3 separate regions of the Homo sapiens genome follow, and regions 2 and 3 are each linked to region 1. Evidence: fine-mapped expression QTL. A gene starts in region 1. Each other region holds a variant in brackets. All regions are shown on one strand. Distances are from middle to middle.

Region 1 (4,245 bases):
TAAATCATAATCAAATATGACTTTGCAAAAATAACTTGTCACTAAAAATCCATTTGAAGGAAGAACACAATGCTCTCTTGGAAATTACTGATGATAATAGTAAATAAACACATTATAGAACTTGAACCAAAGCCCCTGCAAAATATTCCCTTTTACATTTTTCGTTTTTTTGAGACAGAGTTTCGCTCTTGTCGCCCAGGCTGGAGTACAATGGCACAATCTTGCTCACTGCAAACTTTGCCTCCCAGGTTCAAGCGATTCTCCTGCCTCAGCCTCCCAAGTAGCTGGGATTACAGGTGCCCACTGCCACGTCCGGCTAATTTTTGTATTTTTAATAGTGACAGGGTTTCACCACGTTGGCCAAGCTGGTCTCGAACTTCTGACCTCAGGTGATCCTCCCACCTCAGCCTCCCAAAGTGCTGGGATTACACGCCTGAGCCACTGTGCGCCCTGCTCCCTTTTACATTTTTCTCATGCCGATTGTGACACGATGCTTTCAGTAAAAATTAATGATACAAGCAAAATGATGCAGAAACCAAGATTAAATTTACAAAATTGAAAAGCCTCAAAAGAATTCTGAATAAATTACATTGCCAAAGAAACTCCATCAAAACCTTCAGGTCCAAGCAAACATCAAAAATTCCATCAAAACCATCAGGACCAGGAAACAGGACGTAAGAAGAGTGGCCAATGAGCCAATAAGTAAAACCAAAAGGTTATATATACATAGAAAGCAAGGAAAAGAAAATATCACCAAGGACCGAGTGATGAACTACGTCAAATGCTGAGTCAAGTAAAATGAAGACTAAGCTGACACTGGATTTGGCAACATGGAGGTAGGTCATTTGTAACCTGAAGAACGGCAACAATTTCAGTAGAATGATCGAGGTAAATATCTGACTTACCGTTCAAAAGAGAGGAAGTAGGAACAATGAATTGAATATAAGCACTGTAGAGAAATTTTACTATAAAAGGGAGTAAAGAAATACAGTATTACTAGAAGAAAACATGGTCAAGAGGAAAGTTCGATGGAAAAAAGAACAAGTGTATATGCTGTTATGGATTGCATTGTGTCCTCTCTCCCCAAAAAAGTGTGAGGGAGGGAGGGAGGGAGGGAGGGAGGGAGGAAGGGAAGAGGGGAAGGAAGGAAGGGAGGGAGGGAGGGAGGCAGGCAGGCAGGCAGGCAGGCAACGCTCACTTGGTGCAAAAAAAAAGAACCTGACAAATGCTCCGATGAAGTTCACATAAATACAAAAATAGTCACACGCAATGAATACTCGTATTAGCAAGCAAATATTTAAGGACTTTACATATTTAATTCATTTATCCCTCCTAACAATGCTAGGAAGTGGATGTCAGCATTACTTCGCCCAAGTGCATCCGTCCCTTTCCGCCACCACGACAAATGTTTTCTGGTTTCATCCTTCAAGGATTAACTTACATTCATTTCAAATCCTTTAATGATAAAGTGTACAAAATAGAGGAGAGCGGCAGGGGTTGGCAGGGGACGTAGGGAAAGGATGATTTGCCTTCGATCCTACATCCTGCATAAAAAGCAGCACAACCGCCACGGAGGCAGCCAGGCAGCGGGAAAACTAAGTGCAAAGCCAGGACTCTCCCGAAACCCTCAGGTCCTGCTAAGGGAGCCGCTCCCGAGGCTCCCCGCCCTGTGTACCTGCTGAGACTGTGGGAAGTCGGGTGACTGGGCGGTTTGGCCTTGCTGGCTCTAAGGTGAAAAACTATTTGCCTGAGGAAGATGACAATTCCGAGCCTGCCAGACTTCCTTCGAGACGGAAGCCTGAAAACTCCTCAGACTCCAGCACCTCCCTTTTACAAACTGACGTTTGTGCTGAAAGAAAAGGCCCGGCCTCTGCGCCCCCGGGCGGCAGCAAAGACCGCCGGGCACCCGCCGCCGGCGCCGGATGGGGCCGTTGAAGCCACGTCCCAGGCGCCCGACGCCACGACGCCTTGGCGCCGCCGGCGTCGCTGACGCTGCGAGCGTGAGCTGCGCGCCGAGAGCGGAAGAGGAGACGCAGTTTGGCGGCTGTGGGGATTTGCCGGAAGGTTAATAATGTCCATGGGCACATCGGCCTCCTCCTTTCTTATTCTCTCCCAAGTGTAATTCCAGGACGCCCCCTGAGCGCAGATTCATCCAGGCATTTGGCCTAGAGGCCCGCGGAGGAGAAATAAAGTACAGGCCTGGTAGGACCTTTGAGAACCTGGGCTTCAGCTACAAAACCAGAGCCCCAGTCCTTCATCTGCTGTCTCCTCAAGCTCTTTTCAGTGTATTGTGGAGTTCATTACCACTCTAAGCTCGCACGGAAGTGTACACCAGCTTCGTGATCTTAAAAGCAAAACAAAATCAAATGGACTAGGAATTAACTTGAAGCAGAGTTGTGACACTTAAGTGGTTTCTTGCCATCAGTTTCCACGCACTGCTTTAAGATGCAATTTTACAAGGTAGAGTTTTTTAGATAATTTGACCTCAAGAAATATATTAATTTTGTCTTTAAGTTGAACGAAGTAAAATGTTTTTAATATTTTAAAATATTAATTGATACAATTTAACTGTTAATAATGCCTGTGTGTAAATGAAAGGAATAGGAAAGATGGAACTAAAACTAAAAACCAGGAGGTTTAAAGGAGACCTTAGATTTGACTTAGTAGATTTCAACTATTTTCTAAAACTCTGAAAATTCATTATATCTAATTATTTCTAATTTTCCAGTAAAATCTGAATGCCTCACAAGAGATTCCTGAAAATTTATCAGCTCCCAAGAGCTGGTGTAGGCTAGCTCCATCACACCACTAGGAGTTACCATTGGGGTTGCCTGGAAAGGGAAAACAACACATCTTCTGGTGTACCAGAAATGTTCTGTCTTCTGCTCTTTCTGGGTGTGTTCAAAAATTCATGAAGGCAGGCTGGGCGTGGTGGCTCGCACCTGTAATCCCAGCACTTTGGGAGCCTGAGGCAGTGCATCACTCGAGGTCAGGAGTTCGAGACTAGCCTGGCCAACATGGTGAAACCCCATCTCTACTAAAAATACAAAAATTAGCCGGGCGTGATGGCGGGTGCCTGTAATCCCAGCTACTTAGGAGGCTGAGGCAGGAGAATCACTTGAACCCAGGAGGTGGAGGTTGCAGTGAGCCGAGATTGTGCCATTGCGCTCCAGCCTGGGCAACAGAGCGAGACTCCATCTAAAAAAGAAAAAAAAAAAAAAACATGAAGGCATATGCTTATTTATGCACTTTTCAGTATGTGTGTTTTATGTCAGTAACAAAGAAAATGTACATATAAATGATCAGATTTATTAAGCTTTCCACCAACAATTTTTTATTTTTTAAAGTTGGCAATAAAATTAAGAAAGTAGTTTAGAAAGAATTGAATTGCTAAATTCCAAATCTCCCAAAACCGTTGTAAATGAAAGGGATAGGAAAGATAGAACTAAAAGTCAGGAGAGATTAAAGAAGACCTTAGATTTGACAAAGCCAATTTCAGTTATTTTCTAGAACCCTGAAAATAGATTACATCTAGTCATTTCTAATTTTGTTGGTAAAATCTTAACGGTCAAGTTGTCAAGTTAGCATACATTAGCAAAACTCTCAGCATGAGTCTAGCCAAAAGTTCACCATTCATATCTGTGGCCTTAATAGCACAGCTAAGAACCACAGAAAAGTTATCAGTGCTGACAATGTAAAGCAAAGAAGTTTAAAAAGTTAATAAATTTAAGCATGTAATATCAAATTTTGCAGTGGTTTGAGTCTGTGACATGAATCGATTATTCTTTGAAAACAAACAATACTTATGAATAGAGAGGAACTTTTTCATCTGATGAAGGACATCTGTGAACTATCTCCAGCTAACATCATTTTCAATAGTGAAAAATTGATTTTTCCTTAAGATTGGAAGGAGGCAAGGATATTTGCTCTCACTATGTCTATTCAGTATTATACTGGAGGTCTTAACAAGTGCAATAAGGCAAGAAAAAGAAATAAAGGCATAATGATTTCAATGAAAGAAATAAAGCTGTATTCCCAGACAACATACAATTTCCAGACATCTACAATGAAAACTATATAACATTACTGAGAGAAATTAAAGAAGATCCAAATTAATGGAGATTATGTACCATATTAATGGATTAGAAGACCCAATATTGCTAAAATGTCAACTTTTTAAGTCTATGTCTATCAATATTTATCTACACATTAAATGCGTTTATGATCAAAATCCAAGAAGATTAT
Region 2 (4,245 bases), 450 kb before region 1:
ATACTGTGGCTATGCAACAGCTCTCACCTACGCGAGTCTTACTTTGAGTTAGTGCCATAACAGACCACTGTATGTTTACTTCTCACCATTTGAGTTGCCCATCTTGTTTCACACTAGTCACATTCTTGTTTTAAGTGCCTTTAGTTTTAACAGTTCACTTTTTACAGTGCTATTTACTGAAGTTATTTATTAAATATGCCTAAAATACTTAAATCGGATGTCTTGACTCTGATGTATTTTATCAGGTTGTGTGCATGAAATTTTTATAGATTAAAGAAGTTGAGGAAAAGCATTTCTGGTTGGTGGGTAGTTCACTTATGAAGCTAAAACATAATTCTTTAAAAAAATGTACTAGGGACATAAGGAGAGTGGTATGGTGAAATACAGACTTGAAGACTGTCCTTGGGCTCTCTGAATCATGGTGGATAGATCCTTACTTATCCTGCTACGCTGGGAGAGAGGTTTCATCCCAATATTAAGCAGAATTAACTTTATGAACATCTTAGAGCCATTAGTAGGTGCTGGAAATTGTATCATTTTATTTAAGATATAGATAGGGGATTGTTAACTTTTCTGATAAGAAAAATTAGGAAAAATTTTACTTTTATTTGGCTTTGGTTTCTGTTTGAAAGGATATATCCATAAGTACTACTTGTGTAAAGCTTATTAGAAGAAATATATGCTGCTTTCTTAAGCATACAACAAATGTCAGAAATATTTGGAGGAGAAAAAGTTTCAGCCTTACTAGCCTTTCACATTTATACAATCCCTTCACATCCTGTTAATCTTCTTTTACTTACTCCATTTAAATGTGTTTCATAGCTTAGACTAAAGCATATTTGAGGTGAGAATTACACATTTTTAGTAGTTTGTAAGATCCATGAAAAAAATTATCTGTATTTATTACTCTCTGTCACCCTGTTTCATCTTGTTTTCCACCATCCATAATTCCACTTAGCTTAATTCATTTCCCTGTGCCTTAGGCATAATCAATAGTTGAATTGCATATTTCTGCTCCAGAACTCTGCTCTTATAATGATATTTTAAAAATATATTAGAACAAAGTAACAAAGTCTATCTTCTATATGTACATAATTTTTTTTTCCAAACACGTGTTTGAGGCTGGAATGTGGTGAATTTTTAGATTTTATATTACAATTTATAGCAGACAAAAAGATTTTCTATAGGAATCCCTTTGTTGGAAGTTGGAGGAATTGTATACAAGTTTATTTCTCATGCTGATTATAAGAGCCTAAAATACTTAAATCGGAAGACTCAATTTGACATTTGAGTAATTCTAGGCTTGAAACTGGCAATTTCAAAATATAGTCTGAGAAATTGATAATAGTATATCTATCTCTATGTAGATACACACACCACACATTGAGATGCTTTGACTGAAGCCACATAGAACTTGGTCACTAAAATACTTATTCTCCCAGCAGGAGTACATTTTGATCTCCAGTGAGACACTTTCCAAAAAGCAAGAGTCCAGGAAGCAAAACAACAATTAGAACTTTTTTTTCCATTTAAACTATACTATAGAAATTTACAAAATATTAAGTATCATGAGTACATTGTTTGGCTAATGCCAAATAGTGGCATATTTTACAGTGATTCCATGACATTTTAAAAGTTTTCTTACTCTTTTCCAGTCTTACTTTATGAATTTCCTTAAAACAGGCACCCAGGTAAGACCTTGAGCCACAAGAACAGTTCATAATACCACTTAAAAAGTCACCTGTGATCAGCTTTTTGTTTGAACCTGGAATTTTTCCTTTCTGTTTTTCACTACAGTTTGAGAGATAACCTTGAGTAGAGGCCATTTGTCTTTAGTTTATTCCTTGGAGGCTTAATGTTTACATTTTTAAATGTTCATTTTTGTAGATTCCAGGGGTACATGTGCAGGTGTGTTACA[T/C]GGACATGTTGCATAATGGCTTCTAGTGTACCCATCACCTTAGTAGTGGCCATTATAGTCAATAGGTAATTTTCCACCTTTCACCCTCCTACTACCCTCTCCCTTTTGGAGTCCCGGGAGTCTGTTCTTTCCCTTTGTATGTCCATGTTTACCCACTGTTTAGCTTTCACTTATGAGTGAACATGTGATATTTGATTTTCTGTTTCTGAATTGTTTCACTTAGGGTGATCCATCCATGTCACTGCGAAAGACATGACTTCATTAAGGCCTAGATATTTCTGATCTGATATGCTCAAAGAAGTTCAGAAACAGAATGAGTATCTCCCCAGGACTCCTTTTGAGCCTATAAAGATCCTTCACTGGCTCTTTAGAATTTCTCTCATGACTCAGGATTCTTCTGAGAATTTAGGGATAGGTGGAAGTGGCTTCTGAGTGATGAGTGGGAGCAGATTTTCAAGGTGGATTAGGTCTAGATTAAGTAGCCCATCAAGTCTCCACTGCTCTGAGGGTGGTATGTCATCTAAGTGTGAACCTTTAGGGTACAAAAATGGTAGGAGAACCATGAGACAAATACTAAGTTCACTGATACGGCAATTCTTACCTTCATTTGCTTCTACAATTAAGTCTTCACTGTACTTTTAATTAAGATTTTAAATTTTTGAGGGTATAGAGTTTCCATAAAAAGTCATCAGTGATAATAAATTTTATTTGACTTTCTACTTATTCCGGATTCTAAAATAGACTGACATATAAACACGTTACTTATGGATCACTTTGAGAGAGGAAACACTATTCAGAAGATTTAAATCCCAGAATTTAATCCATTGCTTTATTGCAAGTTTACAGAAGACTTGTCTTCAGTTTTATCTGCAGTAGTTGATCTATTGACTTTAAATGTTGAAAACTTATACTAATGTTGCTTACTGTCCAAAATTATTCCTGGGAGATAAACATTCAGATTTTCTACAATAACCACTGACTGGCCCCTTAGCAGCCATTTTAAATGTAAATTTGATGATATTGCCCAAACATCCCCAGTCCAGTTCAACTTTCAGATCCTCAAGCCTACCATAGTCCTTTGTGTTTGATATTTCTTTCTTATCCTTAAATGTGGTAGCTCCATGAGCACAGGGACCTGTGTTTTGATTCACTGTCTGCATACTTCACTTTGCAGAACATTTTTAAGGTCCATGCATGTTGTAGCATGTATCAGAACTAGACTCCTTTTATGGCTAAATATTCCATTGCCTGCGTATAGCATATTTATCCATTCAGTTTTCAATGGACACTTGGGGTGTTTCCACCTTTTGGCTCTTACGAATAATGCTGCAATAAATATTGTCATATAAGTATCTGTTCAAGTTCATACCTTCAGTTCTTTTCATTATATGCCTAAAAGAAGAATTGCTGGATCATATAGTAATTGTGTTTTGCTCTTTGAGGAACTGCCAAACTGTTTTCCACAGTGGCTGCACCATTTTACATTCCCACCAGCAATGTATGAGGGTTCACCAGAGAACCCTCAGAACAGAACGGAACAGATACTTCATCAGAGAAGATGAATGGCAAAAAAGAAAAAAATGGAAATGCAAATTAAAATCACAATGAGATACCATTAGATACCCACTAGAATGGCTAAAGTTTAAATGGCTGAAAATACCAATTGTATCCTTAGAACAACATCTGGCACAAAGTAAGGTGTAGGTGACCAGTAAGTATTTGTTGAGTAGATGGATTCATTTCTGTAATTTGCTACCATGCCCACCTACCTGTTAGCATCTGCAGTGACATACTGGCCTTCCTGCCAGTTCTTATAGATAAACTCTCCAAGGGCAGACCTTCCACTTGTATTCGTCTTCCAAACTCCATCACCTCTTGCCTGCTAAGACAAGCAGTTCTCTCCTCTCCTGCATCATCAAGTTTTCCCCTCTTCTGGGTCATTCCCCTCAGTAACAAACATACCATAGTTACCATCTCTGTTTCTCTCTTTCCTTTTACAACTCAGGAGTTGTCTAAGCCATACACCTGTGACCAATTGATGTGTGACAAGGTTTCCAAGTTTGTTCAATGGGGAAAGAAAAATCTTTTCAACAGATGATGCTGGAATAACTGGATTTCCACAAGCAAAAGAGTGAAGCTGGACCCCTAACTCTCACCATATACAAAAATTTACTCAAAATGGATCAGTGACATATCTAAACATAAGAACTCAAACCATCAGACTTTTAGAAGAAACATAGGAGTGTACTTCATGACCTTTAATTTGGCAAAGGGTTCTTAGACAAGACACCAAAAGCATAAATAACAAAAGATAAAACATAAATTGG
Region 3 (4,245 bases), 630 kb before region 1:
CATGCTGAACTCTCAACAGAGTGGTCTGAACTCTTGGGAGTAGACATAGTTCCAACTACCACAGAGAGTGGAAAAAAATTCAGAGTGGCCTTTCAACCAGAGCCCAGACACTGGAGTCTCAAAAATGTGTGCAAATGTACCGGGCACAGTGGCTCATGCCTATAATCCCAGCATTTTGGGAGGCCGAGGTAGGCGGATCACTTGAGGTCAGGAGTTCAAGACCAGCCTGGCCAACATGGTGAAACCCTGTCTCTACTAAAAATACAAAAATTAGTTGGGCGTGGTGGCTCGAGCCTATAATCCCAGCTACTAGGGAGGCTCAGACAGGAGAATCACTTGAACCTGAGAGGTGGAGGTTGCAGTGAGCCGAGATCCTGCCACTGCACTCCAGCCTGGGCAACAGAGCAAGACTCCATCTCAAAAAAAAAAATTGTGCAAAAGTGTGTGTGCACATCCATGAGTGTGTGTGAGACAGGGTGTGTTTGCATGTGAGCATGTGTGTGCAGAGTGAATATCAGGGTATCCACATGAGTGTGTGTGTGTATGAGGAACACATGAGATTGAACGTGTGTAATTGTATATCTCCAGTGACAGCACAGAGGAAGAGATGGTCCAAGACCAAAGAGGAAAGAAATGGCATAAGATGGGACAGTGTTCTATGATCTCTAACTGGCCAAAGAAAAATGAGAAACAAATTTAAAAGAAGACAGGTAAGTAAAGTAAGTTTAGCTGTAATTTGGATTCTCATTTAGGAACCAGGGTCTTAATCTAGAGGGAGAAGGAACTCAACATAATGTACTGTAATGGGGGTTTCCAGACTTGCTAACTTTATTCTCTCCCAAGCCATTTGTCTCTCTGTTAGTTTAATAATTTTCCACAGCTGCTGTGTAATATAACTACTGATGTACTACTGAGCCAATTTCTCCCAGCCAGTCCTACTGCCAGAGAAACTAATGGGAAGAGATAGCGCCAGGGTCTACCCTGCAAACCTGCAAGGGCTTGCAAATTGGGTCACAGTTTGCTCGTTGCTGAAGGGAACAGCACACACAGGCTGCCATCTCCATTTAATTTTTTTCTTTGTCTTGCAAACAGCAATATCTTTCTTTTGGAATTCTGAAGAAATCGATTGCTTTCATATTTCCCTGGCTCTTTAAGGAACAAAAAGCAAGTCCTGAAAAGTAAAGACATTCCTTTTAGGTCCAACTCACAGAAATTGTGGTGCAACAGCAGTGTTCGATTCCAGAAAGAGCAGGGATTCTATTTCTGTCAGTCTTATGTCTCCCTGAAACCATTTTACGATTATTTTGTGTCCTCTGTTTTCCCAGTTGGATGACTTAAACACCACCCCTGAGAGGCAGCTGTTTCCAGAATATTGCACAATTTATTGAGTTCATGAGAATCGTGATCGTTGGCAGCACCGAACTTCACGGAGGGAATCATAGGCACTTTAATTCCAATTTGTTGACTTATGGAGGAAGAAATTTCTCCCAGTGGTGTCCCTTCATCCAGGAACAAGAGCCATCAAAGTGTCACAGACTTAGAGCCGGAAGGGCTCTCCGCTAGTGTTTCTGCCAGTCCTCTTGGTTTTACACATGAGGAAACTGAGGCCCAGAGAAGTTACCCAGTAGCAGATCTGCAAGTCACCCAGTAGCAGATCTGCAAGGAGCTCTTAGCAATCCTGACTCCAAGTGTAATGCTCTTGCATTAGCTCTGTGCTGCCTCCTAGATGTTGGTCTTCTTAATGTTGATAGCACATTTGCTCAAATGTTTGCTAATATGGTTTGGCTGTGTCCTCACCCAAATCTCATCTTGAATTGTAGTTCCCATAATCCCCACTTGTCGTGGCAGGGACCCAGTGGGAGGTAATTTAATCATGGGTGTGGTTACCCTCATGCTGTTCTCATGATAGGGAGTGAAGTCTCACGAGATCTGATGGTTTTATAAACAAGAGTTCTCCTGCACAAGCTCTGTTGCCTGCTGCCATGTAAGAAGTCCCTTTGCTCTTCCTTCATCTTCCGCCATGATTGTGAGGCCTCCCCAGCCATAAGGAACCATGAGTTCATTAAACCTCTTTTTTTATAAATTACACAGTCTCCAGTATGTCTTTATTAGTAGCGTGAGAACAGACTAATA[C/T]ATTTGCCCTGCAAAACTTCCTTATTCTTAAGCAAAGTGATTTCCAAATTTTCTTCATTAGACACATAATTTAGAACTACGATTAACTAAACACTAACTGGGTGTCAATTACTGTACTATTTCCTGCACATGGACACATTTAGGGTCAAAGTACTGTACCAAGTATAATTTTCCTAGAAGCTATAAAATGTAGGGTATCAGTGAATGGAAAAAATAGAACATTAATTAATAAAAGAAATCTACTACAGAGAATCTTTTCCCCCTAAATATAACCATAGAGACTAGGCTGGTCATTATTTGCAGTTCACAAAAGAAAGAGGCTACAGAAATATTCACAGCTATTGAACGAGGTGGCTGGCAAGTGAATTTGGTGTAGGTGCATAAATTTGTGTGCTGGGGGTGTGTTATAAAAGAATAAAGTCTGGGTTCAGCTGGGTGATGGCAGGAAAAACAGGATCCCAGAAGGAGGCTGAAAGAGTTGGGAACAGATGGAATGACTGGCCTACATGTCAAGTCTCTTCAGCTGCCCACCTGGCCACAGAAAAGGCAAAGCTCTGCAAATGGATCATCTCGTTCTTACTGTAACACATAACAAGCAGTGGGCAACACAAACTCACCTGTGTCAATGGAAAGAGTTAAACTCTGTGACATATTTCAGAAGCTTTATTCTGAGTCAGATATGAGTGACCAAGGCCCGTGACACAGCCCCAAGAGGTCCTGAGAACATGTGCCCAAGGTGGTTGGGTTACAGCTTAATTTTATATCTTTTAGAGAGACAGAAGTTGTAGGCAGACATCAATTAATACATGTAAGGTGTACATTGGTTGGGTCTGGAAGCAGTTGTGGGGGACAGGCTGGGAGAGTGGGTATGGCTTCCAGGTCATAGTGGATTCAAAAATGTTCTGATTGCCAATCAGTTGAAAGCGTTAAGTTATTATCCAAAGACCTGGAATCAACAGAAAGGAAAGTCTTCTAGGTTAAGATAAGGGGTTGTGAAGACCAGGGATTTCATTATGCAAATGAAGCCTCTAGGCTGTAGAGAGAATAGAGAACAAATGTCTTTTATCAGACCTAAAAACTTGCCGAACCCTTAGTTAAATATCTCCCAGATGAGGTAAAGACCTAGAAAGGGAAGAGGATTCTCTACAGAATGTAGATTTCCTCACAAAAGACAGTTTTTCAGGGCCATTTAAAAAGATGTCAAAGAAATCTATTTTGGAGTAAAATACTTCAGTGTCTTTCAGGGCCTGCCATCTGTCCTATGATGCTATACTAGAGTCAGGTTGGAATTTGGTGTCTTCCCACTACAAAGAGTCTGCTTTGTCAGTCCTAAGATCTCTGTTTTAATGTTAACCCTGGTCAGTTGAGCCTGAATTCCAAAGGGAGGAGGGCATAAGGAGGTCTATCCAACAAGCCCCTCTTCCCATCACAGCTTGAACTAGTTTTTCAGGTTTACTTTGGAATGCCTCGGCCAAGAGGGAGATCCATTTAGTCATTCTGGAGGCTTAGAATTTTATTTTTGGTTTACACCTGTTATTTACCTTTTTTCTGCTACACTGGCAAAATAACCCCGTCTGCCCCTGAAAAAGGCTTCCTGGTAATCTCTCTCAGGAATCAGGGTGATTTCTCTAGTTGTTGGCGAGTTTGACAGATTGCAGGGGAAATGCTGCTTCATAATCCTGCTCCAGATGTGTTCTGACCCTAGAAGTGAACACCGAGAGCGTTCCGGTCCAACCCTACAGGAGACCAGGGAAGGAGCACCACCCAGAGAGAGAGTTCCGTACCTAAGTGCACCTTCATTTGGTATTTAAAAAAAAAAAAAAAAAAAAAAAAACAGCAAAGATGAAGGAATGTTGACAGGGCCACATGACATCAAACTAATCAGCAAGATCCCCCTCCAAGAAGTGTCTGAGTTCAAGGAATGAAAGTATTCTAATCAAACACAGAGCTTGAGAGGAGTATAAAAGACTTGGCAGAGAATCACTGAAGTAGGAAATTAATAAGGTTCAAACCTAGTGTTAAACAAGCCTTCTGAATTCCAAAATCCAACAAAGCATCTTTGGTTGTGTTCTGAAGTTAAAGAAACTATAGTCAAGGGTAACAAGAGGTAAG

Alleles and levels. Positions count from the first base shown, and alleles are read on the strand shown. Sizes are in standard deviations (SD) of each study's normalised expression. Not every link is listed here.
For the expression in minor salivary gland of the gene that starts at base 1,933 in region 1, allele C in region 2 goes with a higher level than allele T (moderate effect, 0.54 SD a copy in GTEx).

Evidence for each region. PIP is the estimated chance that this variant, and not a neighbour inherited with it, causes the effect.
Region 2: its variant is the best candidate, but not a certain one, in a credible set for the expression of CCDC7 in minor salivary gland (GTEx, PIP 0.74).
Region 3: its variant is the best candidate, but not a certain one, in a credible set for the expression of CCDC7 in thyroid (GTEx, PIP 0.69).

The regions. Positions count from the first base shown.
Region 1 is chr10:32,443,828-32,448,072 of GRCh38, reverse strand. It overlaps CCDC7 (coiled-coil domain containing 7), which reads right to left and starts at 1,933. Exons shown (of 44, transcript NM_001395015.1): 1 at 1,676-1,933. LOC101929431 (a long non-coding RNA gene) reads left to right here and starts at 2,017. Exons shown (of 3, transcript NR_120660.1): 1 at 2,017-2,460. RefSeq lists a silencer at 1,763-1,992 and an enhancer at 2,063-2,382.
Region 2 is chr10:32,896,365-32,900,609 of GRCh38, reverse strand. It overlaps ITGB1 (integrin subunit beta 1), which reads left to right. Exons shown (of 16, transcript NM_002211.4): 16 at 1-292. Among named protein-coding and RNA genes, the nearest start is that of SNORA86, 3.0 kb to the left of the region's middle. The variant T/C (reference allele first, on the strand shown) is at 1,919.
Region 3 is chr10:33,071,327-33,075,571 of GRCh38, reverse strand. All of the region lies in intron 2 of ITGB1-DT (ITGB1 divergent transcript), which reads right to left. It overlaps IATPR (ITGB1 adjacent tumor promoting lncRNA), which reads left to right. Exons shown (of 3, transcript NR_160030.1): 2 at 589-710; 3 at 1,326-1,546. Among named protein-coding and RNA genes, the nearest start is that of IATPR, 43 kb to the left of the region's middle. The variant C/T (reference allele first, on the strand shown) is at 2,134.